3 separate regions of the Homo sapiens genome follow, and all the other regions are reported to be linked to region 1. Evidence: microRNA targets listed by miRTarBase, many of them from high-throughput screens and not tested one by one. Region 1 holds a microRNA gene; each other region holds the end of a gene's coding sequence.

The links. Region 1 holds the annotated microRNA hsa-miR-3178 (GGGGCGCGGCCGGAUCG, at 4,829-4,845, shown strand). A microRNA usually pairs through its seed, bases 2 to 8, with sites in the 3' UTR of a target mRNA and lowers its output. Matches are read on the target gene's strand: a 7mer-m8 pairs with bases 2 to 8, a 7mer-A1 pairs with bases 2 to 7 and ends in A, and an 8mer does both.
Region 2: miRTarBase lists MPIG6B as a target of hsa-miR-3178. Seed matches in the 3' UTR shown: 7mer-m8 at 1,920-1,926.
Region 3: miRTarBase lists SVIP as a target of hsa-miR-3178. Seed matches in the 3' UTR shown: 7mer-m8 at 2,811-2,817.

What each region holds. Positions count from the first base shown.
Region 1 is chr16:2,529,631-2,536,823 of GRCh38, reverse strand. It overlaps MIR3178 (microRNA 3178), which reads left to right and starts at 4,819; the gene lies at 4,819-4,902. AMDHD2 (amidohydrolase domain containing 2) reads right to left here. Exons shown (of 11, transcript NM_001330449.2): 11 at 5,407-7,193. CEMP1 (cementum protein 1) reads left to right here and starts at 5,416. Exons shown (of 1, transcript NM_001048212.3): 1 at 5,416-6,789. The coding sequence starts at 5,751. The coding sequence ends at 6,494. RefSeq lists enhancers at 4,134-4,183, 3,484-4,185, 4,964-5,013.
Region 2 is chr6:31,723,697-31,730,889 of GRCh38, forward strand. It overlaps MPIG6B (megakaryocyte and platelet inhibitory receptor G6b), which reads left to right. Exons shown (of 6, transcript NM_138272.3): 2 at 1-290; 3 at 446-536; 4 at 891-931; 5 at 1,069-1,148; 6 at 1,274-3,018. The coding sequence ends at 1,378. DDAH2 (DDAH family member 2, ADMA-independent) reads right to left here and starts at 5,603. Exons shown (of 6, transcript NM_001303007.2): 1 at 5,169-5,603; 2 at 4,950-5,049; 3 at 4,755-4,828; 4 at 4,477-4,596; 5 at 3,847-3,996; 6 at 3,344-3,657. The coding sequence starts at 5,465. The coding sequence ends at 3,541. CLIC1 (chloride intracellular channel 1) reads right to left here. Exons shown (of 6, transcript NM_001288.6): 6 at 6,903-7,193. The coding sequence ends at 7,146.
Region 3 is chr11:22,816,684-22,823,876 of GRCh38, forward strand. It overlaps SVIP (small VCP interacting protein), which reads right to left. Exons shown (of 4, transcript NM_148893.3): 4 at 2,244-6,450. The coding sequence ends at 6,436. Among named protein-coding and RNA genes, the nearest start is that of LINC02718, 9.1 kb to the right of the region's middle.

The DNA.
Region 1 (7,193 bases):
TCCTGACCTCGTGATCCGCCCGCCTCTGCCTCCCAAAGTGCTGGGATTACAAGCGTGAGCCACCGCGCCCGGCCAACTTTATTTTTTTTTATACTGACACATGCCCATGCAGTTCTTGAGTAATGCACAGAAAAATCGGAAGCAGTGAAGGACAAACAGCTTGAGGAACTAGTACACAGTGAACTCTAGAACACGGAGCCCAGGGTGGAGGAGCCTCGGGGCAGGGGCCAAGGGCCAAGGGTCAAGGGTCACAAGAAGAAAGCATCTGAGCAGGCACCAGGGGACAGGGGAGAGAGGGGCAGCTGAAGGTCAAAGAAGAAAGGACAGTTCTCAGTTGTCCTGGGGGCCCCAGTGGCAGCCAGAATGCTTGGCCAAGCCCAAGGCAAGCTAGACCAGGAAACCCCTCGCCCTCTGGCGACACAGACAAATCTCCCCATGGGTCAGGTCCAGTGGCTCATCCCAGGACACCGCACAGACAGCGGATGTCTCACCTGGCCCAGCACGGTTCTCCCGACCCGGGCTGGAGGAAAGAGACTGACCCCTCTCTTTATCTCACCCTTTCCTGCCGAGAACCTCTGTCTATGGCCAATGGATGACCTCAGGCCAAGAATGCAATAACTTGGCCTGACGTTGTGAGGTCACGGTCCATCCAGGGAGGGGCAAGAAAATGACCACAACCATCCCGGGAGGGGCTGGAAAGCTGCCTCATGTGCGTGGCACTGTGCTGCGTCTACGTGTTCCTCACTCGCCTCTACAATGCTCATGGCACGAGGGAGGAAACGGGGGTGCAGAGGCTAAGGAACGTGCCCAAAGCCCTACAGCTGGTGTATTAGTTATATACTGCTGTGTAACAAATTGCCTCAAAACTTTGATGTGTAAAACAACAAAGAAACTCATGGCTCCTGCGGGTCTGGAATCCAGGAGAGGCCAGGCTGGGTGGTCTGGCTCAGGCTCTCTTGTGAAGTTGCCATCAAGATGCTGCCAGGACTGAGTCATCTAAAGGCTAGAGCAGGGCCGAAAGATTCACTTCCTAAAAGGTTCATTCCCACGTTCCCACAGCTGTGGGCTGGAGGCCTCCGTCCCTCACCAGTGCGGCCTCTTCCCAGGCGTGTGTGTTTTCAAGCCCCAGCAGCTGGCTTTCCCCAGAGCGAGTGGCCCAAGAAAAAGAGAACACACACAAGATAGAAGCCGCTGCGTCTTTAATGACCTAACCTCAGAAGTGACACACCATCACTTCCAACACATCTGCTGGTCACACACAACCCTGGTAGAAAGTGAACGGGCGTGTTTTGGGAGGCTGAGGCAGGAGCACTGCTTGAGGCTAGGTGTTTGAGAGCAGCCTGGGCAACAAAGTGAGACCCTGTCTCTAACAAAAAAAAAACTTTTTAAATAAAATCTTTTAAAAAGTGAAACAAGGTTACACAAGGGTATGAAATCCAGAAGGGGCCATTCCTGGGGGCCCCCCTTCAAGCTAGTTGAGGACAGAGCCAGGATTCCAATCTCAGGGAGAGACACAGAGAAGCTAGAAGCACAGGCCCAGCCTGGACCCTGCAGGTGTGCACACCAGAAGGCCCTGAGTTACAAAGCCAGGGAAGGAAGGGCTCTCCCAGCAAGGATCCCAACCTGGATTGCATCTCTAGACTGACCCTGAAGCTACTCAGTAGCGTCTGGAAAGGAGACTAAAGGGGAAAATAGGGGGCAGGGAGATCAGGTGAGAGAAAAGGGGGCTCTCAAAAGACAAGAGCACTGGCTAGGCGCTGTGGCTCACACCTGTAAGCCCAGCACTTTGGGAGAGTGAGGTGGGTGGATCACTTGAGGTCAGGAGTTGGAGACCAGCCTGGCCAACATGGTGAAACCCCGTCTCTACTAAAAATACAAAAATTAGCCAGGCATGGTGATGGACGCCTGTAATTCCAGCTACTCAGGAAGCTAAGGCAGAAGAATCTCTTGAACTCGGGAGGCAGAGGTTGCAGTGAACCAAGATCGCACCACTGCACTCCAGCCTGGGTGACAGAGGGAGACTCTGTCTTAAAAAAAAAAAAAAAAAAAAGGTCTCCTGGCTGCCTCTGGCCCACAAGGCCCTGGTCACATGTCTGAGGCTCCCAATATACATTCGCTGGGCTGCGGATACATGGATGGATGGAAGATACAAAGTCATTCAGTGGTTTCCAAGCCACCAGGTAAATATCCTCCCATATAAGCCATACCAAGGGAGAATCAGACTTGACTGGGAGTCAGGAAACAGAAAGTTGCATGAGATCTTAGGCAAGTAATTTCCCCTCCTTAAACCTCAATTATCCCCGCTGTAAAATGGGCTGGCTCAACAACTGCTAAAAGTCCCAAAAGTGGAAAATATCCAGTGTTGGTAGGAATGCAGAGAAAGGGGCACGTTCATGTACCGATGATGGGAACATCATATTTCCTTTAAACCTGAGCACTGGGAATTCCTGTCCTAGGCCCTTCTCTCTAAAAGGCAGAATAATGTCCTCTCCAAAGATGTTCTCATCTTAATCTCCCAACCTGTGAATATGTTATTATATAGAGAGACGAATTAATCAGCTGACCTTATAGCTGGATAATTATGGCTAGGCATGGTCGTTCAAGCCTGTAATCCCAGCACTTTGGGAGGCAGAAGCAGGAGGATGATTTGAGCCCAGCGGTTCAAGACCAGCCTGGGCAACACAGTGAGATCCCATCTCCGTAAAAAACTAACAAAAACTGGGCGCAGACCAGGCGCGGTGGCTCACGCCTGTAATCCCAGCCCTTCGGGAGGCCGAGGAAGGTGGATCACGAGGCCAGGAGTTTGAGACCAGCCTGGCCAATGTGGTGAAATCCCATTTATACTAAAAATACAAAAATTAGCCAGGCACAGTGACAAAAATTTAGCCCAGGACTTCAAGATCAGCCTGGGCAACATAGTGAGATCCCGTCTCTTTAAAAAACAAACAAAAACTGGGCGCAGACAAGGCGCAGTGGCTCACGCCTGTAATCCCAGCACTTCGGGAGGCCGAGGTGGGTGGATTACTTGAGGCCAGGAATTACAGACCAGCCTGGCCAACACGATGAAACCCCGTTTATACGAAAACTAAAAAAATTAGCCAGGAACTGGAGGCTGAGGCAGGAGGATCACTTGAACCTGAGAGGTTCAGTGAGTTTGCAGTCAGCTGAGGTAGCATCACTGCACTCCAGCCTGGACGACAGAGTGAGACTCTGTCTCAAAAAAAACCAAACAAACAAAAAAAACTGGGCGTGGTGGCTCACACCAGTAATCCCAGCACTTTGGGAAGCCGAGGCACGCACATCACGTGAGGTCAGGAGTTCGAGACTAGCCTGGCTAACATGGTAAAACCCTGTCTCTACTAAAAAAAAAAAAAAAAAAAAAAAAAAAAAAAATCTGGGCGTGTTGGTGCATGCCTGTAATCCCAGCTACTGGGAAGGCTGAGGCAGGAGAATCACTTGAACCCAGGAGGCTGAGGTTGCAGTGAGCCAGGATCGCGCCGGGCTGGGCAACAGAATGAGACTCCGTGTTAAAAAAAAAAAAAAAAAAAGGCTGGGCACAGTGGCTCACGCCTGTAATCCCAGCACTTTCAGAGGCCTAGGCGGGCGAATCAATTGAGGTCAGGAATTCAAGACCAGCCTGGCCAACATAGTGAAACCCTGTCTCTACCAAAAATACAAAAAAATTAGTCAGGTGTGGTGGCGTGCGCCTGTAATCCCAGCTACTAAGGGGGCTGAGGCGGAGAATCGCTTGAACCCGGGAGGCGGAAGCTGCAGTGAGCAGAGATCGCACCACTGCACTCCAGCCTGCGCAACACAGCCAGGCTCCGTCACACACACACAAACCGAACTGCAAAGTAATAGCAAAAGTGTAAACCCATTTAGAAAAAACGTGTGTGACATAAATGTGATAAAAGGAACAGGGCCAGTCTGGGAGGGAGTACCCGGACGCTCCGGAGCTGTCCCAGACTCCAGGGGCGGAAAAGCCGGGCTGAAGAGGTGCCCTTCCTCCACGCTTCTGGTGCCAATCTCCCCTGCTGCGCCCACCCTGGGTCCCTAGCCTGGGCTCCAAACCAACTCCGAGCTAGGGAAGCTCCGAGCCAGGGTGCTTCTAGAGTGTCCGGCCCACCCCTCCGCTTCATTTCCCAAGACAGTGAGGGCGGGGCTAGAGGCCAGGTGCGGAGGTGCGGGACAGGAGCCAAGCTGGGTCGTAGTGGGATCCACCTGTGCGTGATACGTAACAGAAGGGAGAGGCGAGGCGCGGGGAGGTCCGCAGGGATGTGGGAGACGCGACGGGGAGGACTGGGACGAAACAAACTAGGTCCGCAAGGGTATAAGGGGAGCAGCTCGGAGGGTTGGGGCGAGGCGGGGTCTACAGGGGTGTGGGGGGCTTGGCAGGGAGCGCTGGGGCGACGCGGAGCTCCGCAGCGTTGGCGGGGAGCGTTGTGGGGAGACGGGGTCTGCAGGAATGTGAGGGCGCGGTGGGGAGCGTAGCGGGGTATGCAAGGTTGTGAGGGTTGTGGATGGGAGGGCTGGGGCGAGGCGGGGTCCGCAGAGATGTGGGGGGCGCAGAGATGGGGGGGGTCCGCGGGCCCGCCGGGGACCGCGCAGCCTCGGGCTCTGTGCCCGGGGCCGCGCGGGTTAACTAGAGAAGGTGACGCGCGCCCCTGTTGCTCAGCCGCGGCGCGTGCCTTCCCTGCGGCGATCCTAATTGGCCCGACAGAAGCCCGCCCCCAGAAGCCCCTCCCACAGTAGGCAAGGCCCCGCGTGCCGCAACGCTCCCAGAGTTGCGCGTCAGCCTGGACTCAGCGCCTGCGCTACGAGGCTGGGCGGGGCGCGGCCGGATCGGTCGAGAGCGTCCTGGCTGATGACGGTCTCCCGTGCCCACGCCCCAAACGCAGTCTCTGGCCTGGATGTGCTCGGAGCCCACGAGGTGCAGAGGCTCGGACGGCGAAAGGGACCTGGCTGAGATCTGGGTCTTAAACCGCGGGCTCGGCCCAGCATCCCGGCAGCGTGCGCCCACAAGTGACACCCGGCCGGGCGCGGTCTGCGGGATCGCAGGCGCCGGGTCTCATCTCCAGTTCACACACGGGACGAAACGGGCCACCCCTACCAGCTCTGAGAGCATGCACCTCCAACTCCATCCCTCCCCACATGCCCGACCCCCCAACCCGTAACTCAGGCAGACACCTGGGCGTCCCCCTTCAGCGAATGCCCACACCGCGGGCAGGCCTGCCCCTCACCCCGCAGTCAGGGCGCCCTGCATCCTTCTTTGTAAAACCCATAGCTGTAGAGGGAGCGGAATGGTGGGGCAGGGCTGGGAGCCCAGCGGGAGTGAGTGGTGGGGAATGATGGTGGCCAAGGTCACACAAAGCAGTGAATTCACTTCATGTCACAGAACTGCTCAGGTTACGATAGTTACTTTTGTTATGTATTTTACCACAATTTTTAAAAAGCAAACCAAAACCAACCAAGAGTGCTTCCCCCACACCTCAAAATCATCCTGCAGCAGCTCCCTGGCCCAGCTCTCTCTCACCCTGACCCTGGGCCCCTCTCCCACCACCCAGGGCTAGCCCTGTGGACCAACCATCTCTGCCAGCCCCTCCCCGACCCTCCAGCCAGGGAGGTGGGGCGCTGGCCGGTGAATGGGGCAGGCCAGGCCCAAAGGCTGGCCCAGGGCTCACCAGCTCTGGACTGGGCGTCCCGTCTGAGGTGGGGATGACCAACATGCCAGCTCTGGGTTTTAGCTGAGGATGGGCACATCAAGCACTGACAGCCAGCAAGCTGGGCACAGGCGATGCTCAACCTCTAACACATCGGCTGAGAACCTCACCTGCCTCTCCCTGCCTGGGAGCCCTGGCAAGACAGCTCCTCTCCCAGGCCCAGCACAGGCAGGCGCTGGACAGCCACTTCCTAAGGGGTGCGCGGCCGTCAAGGCAGAGGTGGGTATCCCTGCACCTCACACCTCTCAGGAGGTCAGGATCCACATCCGTCGCCTGCTTTCCTGGGCTGCCCCTGGGGCTTGTGGGCTGAGATCAACCCCTTGTGCCCTGCCCCAGGCCCTCCCTCAGGCGAGGCCCTGCCCAGGCAGGTGGTTCTTCCCTGGCTGTTCCCTTCCAACAGGTGGGGCCCAGACCATCCTATCTCTTTGGACCTGGAGACATTTCCTTAACTGGGCTTTGCAGCAGAGGGAAGAGAACAGTGGCAGAGCCAGGCGCGTACCTCCTGTGCCCAGGACAGCACCTGTAAGCAAGGGGGAAGGGAGCCACCCACCCCAGAACTCAAATGGAGAGAAAGTCAAGACAATCACCCCTGACGTGGGGCTGCACCAATCCCTGACGTCTGACCCCACTGTGGCTGTCCTCAGAGCCAAGAGGGCTCCAGAAGCCCACCCGCCTCGAAGCTGTTCAGGGAGCCTCACGGCCCGTGTTTGCCACATGGGTGTGTGCCAGGGCCAAGGGGACACAGAAGATGGCAGGATGACACTAATGGGGTGAGCAGGGCACACTGGTGCCTCCCATACTGCCCTCCAGCACCAGGCAGGGTCACCACAGCCGGCAAGCACTGGGCCTGGGGATGTGTGAAGAGATAGGGTTATTGAGAAGAGAAAACAGAACGCTGGTCATCCGTGGCACTCAGGGCTAGGCAGTCCAGGGAGCAGAAAACAGGGGTCCCGGGCCCAGTCTCCCTCCTGGAGGTCAGAGCGGAGCCCCTGGCACTGTGCCCTGGCCCAGAACCAGGCTGTGGGCTCCACGCTGCACACCCCAACTCAGGAGCAGAAAGCAAACCCCTGACTGTCCACACTCCCTGTGACTGGTCCCCTTCCTGCCGGCTCTTCACCCCCAGCCCATGGTGGCTTCACCCCATGGCACCAGCCACTGACTGCCTGCCCCTCCCTCCCATAGTGACACTTTCCTGGGGTCTGCAGGTCTCCGGTCCACTTCATGCAGACAGGCCCTGTCCCCCACTGGGGCCCAAGGCCCAGGCTAAACTACAGCCCAGCCATCCCACCCCAGGCCGTGAATGCCTTCTCCAGGAGGGCAACCAAGGATGGTGCCACATGTGAGCACAAGCAAAACCCGGAGCCAAGGCGAGTCCTGCTGGGTGCACGTTTATCCCAGCCACCGCCTCCAGGGCGGCCGCACAGGCCCTGGGCATCAATCCAGCAGGGCTCCCGACTCACTCCCTGGAGACCA
Region 2 (7,193 bases), not on the chromosome of region 1:
TCCCATCCGCTGGGTCTGGGCACCCAGCTTCCCGGCCTGCAAGGGCCTGTCCAAAGGACGCCGACCGATCCTGTGGGCCTCTTCGAGCGGGACCCCCACCGTGCCTCCCCTCCAGCCTTTCGTCGGCCGCCTACGCTCCCTGGACTCTGGTATCCGGCGGCTGGAGCTCCTCTTGAGCGCGGGGGACTCGGGCACTTTTTTCTGCAAGGGCCGCCACGAGGACGAGAGCCGTACAGTGCTTCACGTGCTGGGGGACAGGACCTATTGCAAGGCCCCCGGGCCTACCCATGGTAGGTGCAGGCCTGTGCGCACAAGGGTACTTAACTCCGACACATACCCGGAGGAGGGAAGAGGGCCTTGGCTGGGGGTTCTTGAGCGGGACTGCTGGCTGTCCCTCGTCAAACCCCTGACCTCAGCATCCCTCCCCGCCACGCCTTTCCCCCAGGGTCCGTGTATCCCCAGCTCCTGATCCCGCTGCTGGGCGCTGGGTTGGTGCTCGGACTGGGAGCTTTGGGCCTGGTCTGGTGGCTGCACAGGTGAGCAGGAGGGACCCGGCCTCGTTAAATGGGGAGTGACCAGAGGTGGAAGGGGCAGGACCAGAACCTTCGCAAAAGAAAGAGCTAGACCTAGAGCTCTGGTCCTGGCTTGGCGAAGAATGGGAGAGGTCAAAGGTGGGAGCGAGGCCGCTGACTGGTGAGTAGAGCCCCACCAGAGCAGATGAGCTGGAAGTGCAGCAGAGTTAGAGCCTGGGCTGGACTGTCGGTGGGGTAGAGTCTAAGTTGTTTCCGGTCTGAGCCTTCAAGTTGCTGGGCTGTCCTTGGCGTGGCGAGTCCCAGGAGAACCAGTGAGACAAGACTGGTGGTTCTCAAAGACTCATATGTCCCTTACAGGCGCCTGCCCCCGCAACCGATTCGACCACTCCCTAGATTTGGTGAGACTAATTCCACCCCATTTTCTTTCTCCTACATGCCCACTCCCCACCCCTCAATTCCTGAGTCTGAGCCCTTGCTGGGAGCAGACACGTTGGTCACCTTCTCTCCATCCTTCAGCTCTGTCCCCCCCACATAGCTCCACTTGTGAAAACCGAGCCCCAGAGGCCAGTAAAGGAGGAAGAGCCCAAGATTCCAGGGGACCTGGACCAGGAACCGGTAAGGGCATGGGGATGGGAAGGGGATAGCCAGAATCTCTGAGGAAAATGGACCAAAAAAAAAAAGGCCTGAACCCCAAGGAAGACTGTGGAGACCATCTTGTCTTCCTCCCCTTCCTCCTCCAGAGCCTGCTCTATGCGGATCTGGACCATCTAGCCCTCAGCAGGCCCCGCCGGCTGTCCACAGCGGACCCTGCTGATGCCTCCACCATCTATGCAGTTGTAGTTTGAAGGGAAGCCCTTACTCCAAACCTCCCAAGCTAGGGGATCCCAGCTCCCCATAATCCCTCTCCCCTCCTTGGTTCCTCACCTGGAAGAGGAAGGCACCATGGTATAGAAATAAGTGCTAGACTGGGAGTTGGGAGACCTGGGTTCCAGGCTGTCTCTGCCACTGGTCTTACTTCTAAACTTACTCCCATCTCTCCTATAACCTCCATGTCTCCCTCACCACCAGTGTCCTCTCTATACCCAATCAAGCCCTAGCTCCTTTTTTTTTTTTTTTTGAGACGGAGTCTCGCTCTGTTGCCCAGGCTGGAGTGCAGTGACACCATCTCCCTCACTGCAAGCTCCGCCTGCCGGGTTCACACCATTCTCCTGCCTCAGGCTCCTGAGTAGCTGGGACTACAGGCGCCCGCCACCACGCCCAGCTAATTTTTTGTATTTTTAGTAGAGACGGGGTTTCACTGTGTTAGCCAGGATGGTCTTGATCTGCTAACCTCGTGATCCACCCGCCCCGGCCTCCCAAAGTGCTAGGATTACAGGTGTGAGCCACCGCGCCCGGCCTGATTCTTTAAGCTGTTTTTCTTTGTTGCTGGTGTTTTCTTTTTGGACTCCTCTTCCTTGCTCCATATCCCTACAGTATTTCCCACCATTCTAGGTTTGTCCCTTTCTCTTCTTCTGGGACACTCTCATCAACAGTCAGTCCTCAGCCCCCTCCTCTGCAAATGACACTCAGAACTCTCTCTGGCTCAGATCTCAGATTTGGGATTAACAAACTTCCACTTAGACATTCTGCCTGACTGACCTCAGGCATTTCGCACTCTGAATGTCAAACCCAACTCATTGTCATCTCTGAAGCTGCTCACTTAATTCTCCTCTGTATTCTCTTTAACAACCCAGTTGCCCAACCCAGAAACTGGGAGTCACGCAGACCTCCTTTCTCTCTTACTCCCACACAATGAGCCATGAAGTCCAGTCTTTCTATCTTAACATCACTGTCAAACCCACACTGTATTCCATGCCCAGCGCTGCCACGTGAATGTACTCTGCTCACTTCCTTCCTGGATTACCCATAGCCCCACCTCATCCTCCTACCCTTGCTTTCCTCCCTGAAGTCAGAGAGATCCTACTCAAGAGATAACTGCTCCTGACAGCCCTTATTACAGAACTGAAGTACTCTCCTTAGCTTCAGCTCTGTGCCCACGTGCCTTGGCTTTGGATACAAGGTACTACAGCACTTTGTCCACTCTCCAGGCTTACCTGTGTCATTCCACATGCACATCTTAGAAAATGCCAGCCTTAGAGAATTCTCCCTAGCCCCAAAATGTCTTTGCCCAGTGCAATTCCTTCTTCCTGTATTACCCCTTTCCCTCCTTCACACTATCTGCCTGGCTAATTCTTATTTATCCTTAGTTCAAGTATGGCCTTTTCTGGGAAGGTGACCCTCCTTGGCCACCCCTTGCATATACTTTGATGCCCTAGGGCGCACCCCCTTTATTTCCCTCATAGAAACAGCCTTCTGTAAATTGTTCCATGACAACCTGTATTTCAATTTGTAAGAAATTTGCATGTACTGTGAGCTCCCCAACGTCAGGAGACTGACCCTTTTGATATCATTGCTAAGCCTCATTAAATGAATGAATGAAAATGAATGTCCCTGGAAGTGTCATTTCTTTTTCTTTATCAAATAGGGGTGGACTGGTAATCTACCAGTCTCTGAATCATCTAACATTTAGATAAATTCAGTGAGCAATCCACCCATACACTCTTTTCTCTGCCCTGGACACACTTCCCATGATAGAAATTCTGTCTTGTTCATCTTGTGCTCAAGTACCTATGACATGGTTGGGCAATGAGTTGATAAGTACCTAACAAGATTTTTGAATAAGAGGCCTTCTTCCCTGCACTGACCCCAAACTCAGGTTTCAGCCCTGCCCTATCCCTTTGCCCCAGTAAGACACCAGTCACAGCCCAGTCTAAAAGGTCAATTCTATTTTATTGGTTCTGAGAGGGAGGATTCACCCAGTGGATCCTTTTCCCTACACTCTCCCCTCCCCCAATATTGAGGCTCTCTCCCAACTACTGCCTATTCAGCATTCTCTATCTAACCCTCCTTCCCCTTCTACTTCCTATACTATCCTACCCCTGGCCAGCAGTACCCCAAGGCCAGGCCCTCAGCTGTGGGGGCGTGTGCTGAGCACCAAGCAGAGGGAGCTGAGCCCGGCGCCAGCCTTCTCCAGTTCTGAGCAGGACACAGGTACCAGGGTGACATCAGAGAGCTTCTGCAGTGCCTGCACAGGGAAGACATGGAGTGGGGAGAGGGGAGTGAGACCTCAGGCTGAGCCAGGCCACTCTTCCAGCCAGCTCAGAGTGGCCCCACCCAGGCTTCTAGAGAAGGTACCCTTCCTTCCTCCCACTAGGAAAGCCTGAAACTCTTTTCTCTGATGGTGCTTGGTGTTGGAGTTCCTGCCCTCTCTCACCTCCTGGCTGTTGGGCAGATCCCCACCTCCACGGTGCAGGAGGAAAGGGGGCACACCAGGCAACCCAGGACGAAGAAAGAGACAGTCAGCAGCTGCGTCATCTGGGAGGGTCAGGGAGGCATATGGGTGATCTGTCAGCACTGCCATTGCCTAGAGGAAAGAGGAAGTGTTCGAGTCTCAGAACCTCTCCACAGCTGTGTCTGCCTGCTCAACCACCACTAAGGGCTGGGGACGGACTGACATTTGTGGAAAATAATGACAGCAAGCACATAGAGCTTACGATATGTCAGACACTAAGTACTTTAGTTACCTTTGCTAATTTCCACCTTGGAATCACATGCAGTTATTTTCAACCCCCTACCTTCCCCAGCCCCTCCTATCTGTCCTACCCATCCTTAGAGTCACAGTTTAGGTGCCACCTTTGGGGTTTCCTGAAACTCCGGAAGAGCAAATTAATCACCCCTGTTCCCAGTCCTGCTGTTGTAACTTCTTATTTTCTCCTGTGTTCTTTCATGTAAGATGGACAGCCCATTGAGGGCAGGGGTTAGGGCTAATTTCCTAAGCCTCCCAGCTCCCGGCCTCCCGGGCCCAGAACTGCGCCCACTTTCGTTGGCCCCGCCCCCTCCTCACCCGGACAGCCTTTTGGGCAGCGTCGCTGCTGCCTGCCACAACAGTGCGAGGTCCCCCCATGCCGCAGAGACCGCGCAGGTGGGAGGGACCCGAGACTGGCACAGTGGAGACGGCGAAGTCCTAGGGAGAGCGAAGGGAGGTATTCAGGGGCGCGGGAGGGGTGATGGGGTATCTTCAAACATAGGCTGCTCTCTGCCTCTCATTTCCTCAGCGGGCGCCCAGGCCCTTCCGACCCCCACCTGCACCCCCTCCCTCCCTAGGCTGGTCCCGCTCCGCACCCGGAACGTGTCCGCCACGATCTCAGCTCCTCGGTGATTGGTCCATTTGGAGAGGCCTACGAAAAACTCCCGGCCTGAGTCCGGGAGGCCGCGGAGGTTTGAGGGCGGGAGTGAGTTAGAAACAAGGCTCCAGACGGCCGAGTCTCCCAAACTCTACTTCCCTGTGCCAAGACCTATGCCTCCCCCCAGCCTCACCGGTGAAGAGAACGTCAGTGCCATCCAGCGTCGCGTTCTCGTCTCCTATTTCCACAATTCGGAGCCCCAGGTCTTGCAGGGCTTTGCGGACTCCATCGACCTTAGGATAGGAGAAGAGGGCACGGAGCTGTGACACCCCCATCCTCAATTCTTCCCCAAAGCCCCGACATCCAGTTCCTTCTGCCTTTCCCCATACCACACCCGCGCCACGGCGCTCACCTCTGGCCTACGAGCGGGGCTCCAGGGCCGCGTGATTAGGGCCGTGTCCCCTTGGATCACGGCCGTGTCGCCAAGCAGCGGTCCCAGCGGCAATGACTCCTCAGGTGGCAGTTCTAGCAGCTGTAGCCCCAGTCGTTGCCTCAGTTTACCTCCCAGCACCCCGTGCTCCCTTTGAGCTTTGGCCAGATCCAGAGCGGGAAGGCCAGCCCCCGCACCTTCCCCCGACGCCAGGCTCTCTGGGACTCCCCGGATCAGGGCATGGGAGCAGCGGCCCAGCCCCTCCCCCGGCGTCCCCATCCCATCCACACAGACTCCCCCTCCAACCGCTCGGATTTCTTAGTTTTCTTGTTTCTTCACCTGTCTGGGAGAAGAAACAGAAAAGGAGGAGACAGAGAAAAAGACATGCAGACAAGGGCGTTGGGGGTGGTTAAGAGCGCCCAGGTCTTCCTCCTGCCATCTCTAGGCGTCCCTCCCACTCCGCCCCACCCACTCCAGACCTTCCGCTCCTGTCGACCTCACTCTACCCAGCACCCTCAGGGGTCAGATTCTTTAAGAGGAGCCTGAGGAACAAGGCTAGGGTCTCTAATCTCCAAAACACCTGTTGCCCCTGCTTGGGGGCTTGTGAGGTCCCTGTCGGGCGCCCCTCTTGGCAGCCACTAGGATGCGCTCACTCCCCAAAAATGCAGCAGCCCCGCCCCCTTAACCCTCAGCTGCTCGCTACCGCAGGGACTGGAAGTCCAGCCCGCGACCCGCAGGGGTTATGGGACAGAAGGAGAAAGCTGGAGAGGCAGGGGCTGGGGAATGGAAGTCCTGAATACCCGAACGAGAAGGGAGAGAGGTGGGTAGGAAGGGAGGAGTTCGAGCCTAAGGAGTTAAGCATCCTCTCTCCGCCCTGGCTGGTCACGCTGCCCCTAGCGCGACCTAGTATAAACCAGACCGAGTCCCGAAGGACTGGGAGAGGTCTAAAACGAAATGCGAGGGGCGGGGTAACAGGGGGCGTGGTTCCGGGGCGCTGGCACTACTCCCGGCTCCAGGACCCGGTTCCCCGTCTATGTCCCAAAGTCCACCCCGCCTAGCTCCGCGCCCAAATACCGGCTCCCCATACTCTCTGTCTGGTGCAGGCATGGGCCCGGCACCCCCAAACTCCGGCCCCCACACGGTTCAGGGCCCCCCACGCAAGACTCACCTCCAGCGGCCACCCCCACTCCTGTCGCGCTGTGATCTCGGCTGGGGCCCCACCCCCCGAGGACAGAGTTGGTGGAGAAGGGAGTCCCCGTCTTCAAGCCTCGGGGACTGGGAGCTCTGGCTTTTAGCGCGGGTCCTTGTGTAGGCGAGCTCATATACTACGATGGGGCAGGGGCGCGACGGTCTGGCGGCTCCGGGGCATTGTCTAAGCGGGACGGGGCGGGGCTTCTTCGGGCCACGCCCATTCCGCCCTGCTAAGCCTCGCCCATTACATCCAGACTGCGCCCCCCTTGCCAGAAATCGGCACCGCCCAGCGAGCGCTGCCCAGGCCCACCCAGATCTGGCCGGCCCTGGCGACGGGGCTGCAAACGCTTCGTAGACCTCAGAACAGCGCAACGGCGGACCGGCGGACCGGCACGAAACATAGCAGCCCCACCACAAACATTTCCCTTCTTAATTCCTGGCTTCTGCCCTGAGCTCAAGATCACTGACCCACCCCTCATTCCATGTCGCCCACACTTTAAATCCCCATTGCGTAAAAACACTTGATTTTTATTCTGTATTTTATTACTGAAATATGTTGTCCTACTCATCCCACCCCACAATAAAAATCTGACCCAGGCCCCCCATTTCTTTCCCTCATCCCCTCTTCCACCACACCATCCCGGAACAAGTGCTCCAGGATTCCCTGCCCACTGGCCATTTTGGAGTGTGTCCATTGGGTAGCAATGTGGAAACCACCAGGGCCTTTGTGGAGAAAATGGAGGGGGTTGAGGGAGTCCCAGGAGGGGCTTATTTGAGGGCCTTTGCCACTTGCTCATAGGCGAGCTCGATCTCCTC
Region 3 (7,193 bases), not on the chromosome of region 1:
ATTCAGCTCTATGACACATTTTAATTTTTGTGTATGGTGTGAAGTAAAGGCTTGAGTTAATTTTATTGGCATATGGATTCAGTTTTCCCAGCACCATTTGTTGAAAATGTTATTTCCCCATTTCTCCATTGAAGTGCCCTGTAAAAAATGTAAGTTTATTTCTAAACCTTCTATTCTATTTCACTGATCTAGCAGCTATCCTTAGGCCAATACCACACTATCTTGACTATTGTGACGTTATAGTACATTTTGATATCAGGCTGTATAAATTTTCCTACTTTTCTCAGCAATTGCAATTTTAAAAGACAATTTTGACTTTTATTTTACATTCAGTGGGTACGCATGAAGGTTACATGGATACATTGCATAATGCTGAGCTTTGGGGTGAAATTGATCTCATCACCCAGGTGACTATAGTATCCAATAGTCAGTTTTTCAAACATTGCCCTCCTCCCTCTCTCCCCACTCTAGAGTAGTGCCCAGTATCTATTGTTGCCATCTTTACATCCATGAGCATCTAATGCTTACTTCTCACTTATAAGTGAGAACATGTGGTATTTGGTTTGGTTTCTGCATAAATTCATTTAGAATAATGGCCTTCAGCTGCATCCATATTGCTGCAAAGGACATAATTATGTTGTTGTTATGGCTGTGTGTAATATTCCATGGCATATATGTATCATATTTTCTTTATCTAGTTTACCATTGATGGACACCTAGGTTGATTCCATGTCTTTGCTATTGTGAATAGTGCTGCAATGAACATACATGAATGCATGGCTTTTTTGGTAGAATGATTCATTTTCTTTTGGATATATACCCTGTAATGGGATTGCCAGGTCCAATACCAGTTCTAAGTTCTTTGAGAAGTCTCCAAACTGCTTTCCACAGTGGCTGAACTGAATGACTTACATTCCCACCAATAGTGTATTAGCATTCCCTTTTCACCACAGCCTCAGCAGCATCTGTTGTTTTCTTAAGTTTTTAATACTAGCCATTCTGACTGGCGTGAAATATATCTGACTGTGGTTTTGATTTGGTTATCTGATTAGTGATGATGAGCATGTTTTCACATTTCTTGGCCACTTGTATGTCTTCTTTTGAGACGTCTGTTCATGTATTTTACCCATTTTTCAATGGGGTTATTTTTGACTTGTTGAACTAAGTTCCTTATAGATTCTGCATATTAGACCTTTGTCAGGTGCATAGTTTGTGATTATTTTCTCCCATTCTGTGGATTGTCTGTTTACTCTGTTGATAGTTTTGCTTGCAGAAACTGTTTGTCTCACTTGTCAATTTTTATTTTTGTTGCAATTGCTTTTGAGGACTTAGGCATAAATGTTTTCCCAAGGCTGATATCCAGAATAGTGTATTCTAGGTTTTCTTCTAGGATCCTTATAATCTGAGATCTTACAATTAAATCTTTCTTTAATCCATCTTGAGTTTCATTCTTCTGCTTACAGCTAGCCAGTTATTCCAGTACCACTTATTGACTAGTGAGTGTTTTCTCCATTGCAATTTTCATCAACTTTGTCAAAGACCAGATGGCTCTAGTTGTGCAGCTTTATTTCTGAATTCTCTATTCTGTTCCATTCTGTGAAAAAATGACATTGGTAGCTTGATAGGAACAGCAGTGAATTTATAGATTGCTTTGGGCAGTATGTCCATTTTAATGATATTGATTCTTCCAATCCATAAGCATGGAACATTTTTCCATTGGTTTCTTTCAGTGTGTATTGTAATTCACCGTTTAGAGATATTTCACCTCTTTGGTTACATGCATTCCTAGGTAGTTACTGTGTGTGTGGCTATTGTAAATTGGATTGCATTCTTGATTTGGCTCTCAACTTGAATATTATTGATGTATAGAAACGCTACTGATTTTTGCACATTTACTTTGTATCCTGAAACTTTACTGAAGTTGTTTATCCATTTTAAAGCCTTTTGGCAGAGTCATTAGGGTTGTCTAGGTATAGTATCATGTTGTCAGCGAAGAGAGAGAGTTTGACAACTTTTTTCTATATGGATGCTTTGTATTTTTTTTCTCTTGCCTGACTGCTCTGGCTAGTACTTCCCTACTTTGTTTTTTCAAAACTGTTTTGGCTTTTCTAAGTCTTGCATTTCCATATAAATTCAAGGATCATCTTATTAAGTTCTCTAGAAAAGTTTGCTGGGATTTTGCACTGAATTTACTGGCCCATTTGAGAATTACCATCTTCCAATCCAAAAACATACAATGTTTCTTCATTTAGATCTTAATTTATTGGCAATGTTTTGTCATTTTTAATGTCTACAGTTTTATTTTTCCTAAATATTTTATTTGTTGATATTGTAATTTAAATTTTCCCACTTTCAATTACAGATTTTTCATTGCTTGCATATAAACATAGAATTGACTTTCATATACTTTTCATTCTGCAAGATTACTAAAGTCATTTATTAGTTCCAGAAGTTTTTGTGGAACCTCTGAGAATTTTCTACCTGAGACACTTGGTATTAACCTACTTTAAATATATCTGTTACATTTATAATGTAACTATGTCTAAGAAATATAGACAGAGAAAAGGGCATTTTAGGAGTTTGATAGGAAAAGGAGTTTAGCATAACTCCTTGATATCTGACTTATGTAACAAGATAAATTTCAGGGAAATAGCCTAGAGAGCACCAATCTGTGTGCAAAACTAATTAGTTCCACTTGAGATAAGTTAGAGGTACTTGCAAAGAATGGATCAAACCTGTTTTGATAACTAGAAGACATTAACTCAAAACTCAACACAAATTTGGTATTATAAATATAGCCAATGCAGGCCGGGCGCGGTGGCTCATGCCTGTAATCCCAGCACTTTGGGAGGCCAAGGCGGCAGGGATCACCTGAGGTCAGGAGTTCGAGACCAGCCTGACCAACGTGGAGAAACCCTGTCTCTACTAAAAACACAAAATTAGTCAGGCGTGGTGGCACATGCCTGCAATCCCAGCTACTAGGGAGGCTGAGGCAGGAGAATCACTTGAACCTGGGAGGCAGAGGTTGCGGTGAGCTGAGATTGTGCCATTGCACTCCAACCTGGGCAACAAGAGTGAAACTCCATCTCAAAAAACAAAACAAAACCAAAAAAAGCCAATGCAATTCAGGATATAATAACAAAAAAGTATGATATCCACAGGAGTAATGTATGAATACTTAATTTGTAGGCAATAGTTATCACATTCAAAGTCAATATTTGCAAGATGAAGCATAACTAGAAGAGGGAGACTAGAACAATAAAAAGCCATATCAAATGGGAAACTTAGTGTTTTGAGTTACTGGAACCAAAACTTCATCAAAGTCTGTTATACATACAAATGCCTTGTGTCTGTAGCTTTTGAGAAAATTGAAGAAAAAAGCCACAATACTATATTTGAATTAGCTTAGAGCATGTTTAGTAGTTAAGAGAATTTGAAATGCTTGCTTGGAGATGTTAAAGAAATATACCTTATGTCTCAACACATATAGGCAGTCATGGCTACTTACCTCTTACTGGTCTATTCATGCAGAAATTATTCAAAACTGGCAAGAGCTGCTTTTGTCTTCTAAGAACATAGCATAATGCTTATCAGTGAAAATAAAAAGTCAAACATTTGGAGAAAGGGAAAATTCAAAGTTCATGTCCATTTTCCTGGGGTACAAAGGATAGACAGAATTTTTATGATAGTATTATTTCTTTAGGAAAAAACAGGATACTAATTACATCATTTTTCCTTTATAGAAAATCCACCTATAAATCCAGGGATTGTATGAACACACCAAACAACCTTTGGTTCTGTTGCTCTTCTGAATCCCAATGTGATTAAAATGTTCCTGAGGTTTCCCTAACCACCAACTCAGGTTCTAAGTATTTAGGATGTAGTAAAGATAAAATTTTGTTAAAGAGACAGCTAAAGCTAATTTTTACATAGAAAAAAATGTATATTTATATCCCTAAAAGGCAATACAGAATTTATAACCAAACCATGTGTGAGAACTGTTAAATTACATTCCAAATACCAGCAGTGGAACAAACAGAAACACAGAGATGTTTTAAAAAACATGCAGCACGTTACAAAGAGGCCGTGTAATAATTCACAACTTTTGTTAGCAGCCGTTAAGTTTGATTAGTATTAAGCAGCAATGGTTTAAGCAATTTTAAATCATGATATGATAGTTACATATATGCATTTTACTGTTCCAATTATAGTTTAGTAATAGGTCAGGGGTTTGAGCAACATTTTAAGCATTATAATTTTCTCCTAAATTATTTACTATGGGAAATTGGCTTCCACTTAAGGTTTTCATAGAAACTGATGGTTATTTTATGAGGGAGATGTCTGGACGTATGTGTGTATGTGCATGTGTGTGTGTGTATATACACACACATATATAAATTAGAATTTGCAGATATTATGTGTATATATATACACACATATATAATATATATATTATATATATATATAATTTTTTAGTCATGTTTTTAGTCATTTGCTTTTTTTTTTAGTCATTTACCGGTTTCTCATAAGACATCCAGTCACTTCTTTTCCCTTGCCCTTTCCTAACACTGTTCCTAACATTTGGGTACCACCCCTTAGCTCCTGCGACCCATGTGGTTTTGGAGAAAGCTGATCACACTCACGGTGACAGGCCATGGTTGGAAGTAACATGTTCCACTTTTCACGAAAAGTAATAGATCTGAATATCATTCATGGTTAACAATAGATAGTGTGACATTTGGGTATGACCTGCTGGTAGAAATAGGGCATGATTCCCTGGAAGTAAGTCACTTACACCAACCCAAGTTCTAATTCTTTAAGATGTAGTAAAGACAAAATTGTTCTTGCTATATTAAAATGGAAGAAAGGATTTGCAGAGTTCAAGGATGATATGCTCTAGCTCTATATGCACTCCGCTATCAATCATTCCTTTTACTTTCTGCCTTGAAAAAATCATTTTAATAAAATCAAAAATTTTCATTCTAAAATATAGTTCAATGATTTCACTACCCTTTATGAACAAAAACAGCACGAATCCTCTAAAGAAGAAAATTGAGCCAAATTGTTATGTTTTGCCTAGATATTCACACAATATTTCACACCATAATAGAAAAAATAATTTTTCCATGAGAAGTCAAGAGACCTGTATTATATAATAGTTCAAACTTTTAAAAATTAACATGTACAATACACTGCAGTATAACATAATTTTTGTTGGAGGGGTAGATGAAGATAGTGGCTCAGTTTCCTTTGTGTAAAGCAAGTGAACTTGGTCGATTTAACTTAAAATTTCTATTAGCACTTAATATCTGCAAATTTTAATTTAGGGCTCAACATGTGGCCTTGCCATTTAAAAGAGCTATCAGCCTTAATAGCTAACACAAATTCTTTTATTTCAGTGTATTATATAGGAGAAACAAAAAATGCTATAAAATTCATGTTTCTAATGAACAAAAATGTTAAGGTTTATGACTATGCATTGTATAGAATTACCTAATATTTTTATATCTGAAGTAGACCTTTTGTAAGTACAGTACCTACATGTTTTTTTCATACATTCATACTTGCCTTCGCAGTTTCACATCTGTATAAATCTTATGATCGTTCTCTAATAAGTACACAAGATTAACACTACTTATGAAATATGGACAAATATATTACTACTCATTATAACCCATCCAGATTATTAGTTTAACTCATTCAATTACTACAAAGATCCTTACAGAGCTGAATTTAATATACAATAGAACATCACTGCCCTCTGATGGTATCACTAATATATAATTTTAAATTCAGCAAACAAAAAATCCTTTATCATAAAGTAAAACAGGGTATGTTAATTTTATAAGCTACATAAATAAAAATAAATTGGAAAAAATTTTACATCTGCCTAAGAATACTCATTACTAAGTTATAAAAATTTACAGTGCTCCTTCACATCAGCCCTTCAAATGATTTTTTCAAGATTCTCCCTGATGATCAGTTTAAAGGCACTAAGTCCATAAGTTTAATCAAACATCTTCATAGTGAAATAAAAACAGATGTAACGCGATGCAGCACAAATATAAGTAGTTAGATCATTTTATAAAGGATGAAAAGACAACTGCGAATTTTAATCTTAGAGGTATATGCAGAATGTTTACATGCAGTGTATGTATATTCACTATTTAGTTCCATTTTTTAACTACTAAGAAAAATAGCAAATCACCCACTAACTGCAGAAGAGCAAATGTAGGAAAATCAGTATTTAATGAAAAGTCTAGCCATTCTCTAAGCTTGAAAATCAACGTTTTTTTAGCATTGCACTTAAGGGCAATAATATTACAAAGTCTGAATCTTCATTTACTCAAAGAGAAGAAATTAAATTGATGAAGCCCACTTGATTGCAGATAATAAACAGTTATTGGCAGTAGATTCTTCTACTCATGTTATGCTTTATGAAACTGTCCACTAGAAAAGATAAAAAAGAGACAGAAAAGTAAATTTTACTTGAAGTTATATAACAGTACTTCAGTGAACAAACAGGTAAAAAGAGGAATATGGGACATAGAAATACAAAATGATTTTTCTGAATAGCAGCTATTCATAAAATTTTACATTATAGTCCAAAGCCTGAAATAAGATGATAGTTTAAAAGCATAAAGAAGACAAAATATCTGGTCAGATTGGTGGGTAGTTGCAGGATAGCTCTGTCTCACTGTCTTGCCTGTAGTTTTCAAGAGTAACTGTAGAATGTGCTGGGAATGTAACATCCTGGGATAGCAAATGAATGGCCAAGGACAGCTCAAGTTCTGTTCCAGTCCCTCCCTAAAGACAGGACGTCCTTCAATGCTTTAGCCCAAGGAGTCATGTAGTACCTCCCCTTCTAACCCCCAGGTCATAAAACCCAGGGCACTCATCTGAGGTTCAAGTGGGGCACACACAGATGTCATCAACCCCAGGCAGTTTTCCTTGGGAGACAAGCTTATAATGAATCCTAGGCTTCTGTTGTCCCTTGTTGCCAATCTGTAAGTAATAAACTCACTCCACGTTAAATGTTTTTGGTTTTGTTTTGGGATTTTCTTGAGACAGGGTCTCACTCTATCGCCCAGGCTGGGGTGAGGTGGGAATGGCTCACTGCAGCCTTAACCTCGCAGGCTCAAGTCATTCTCCCACCTCAGCCTCCCGAAAAGCTAGGACCACAGGCACATGCC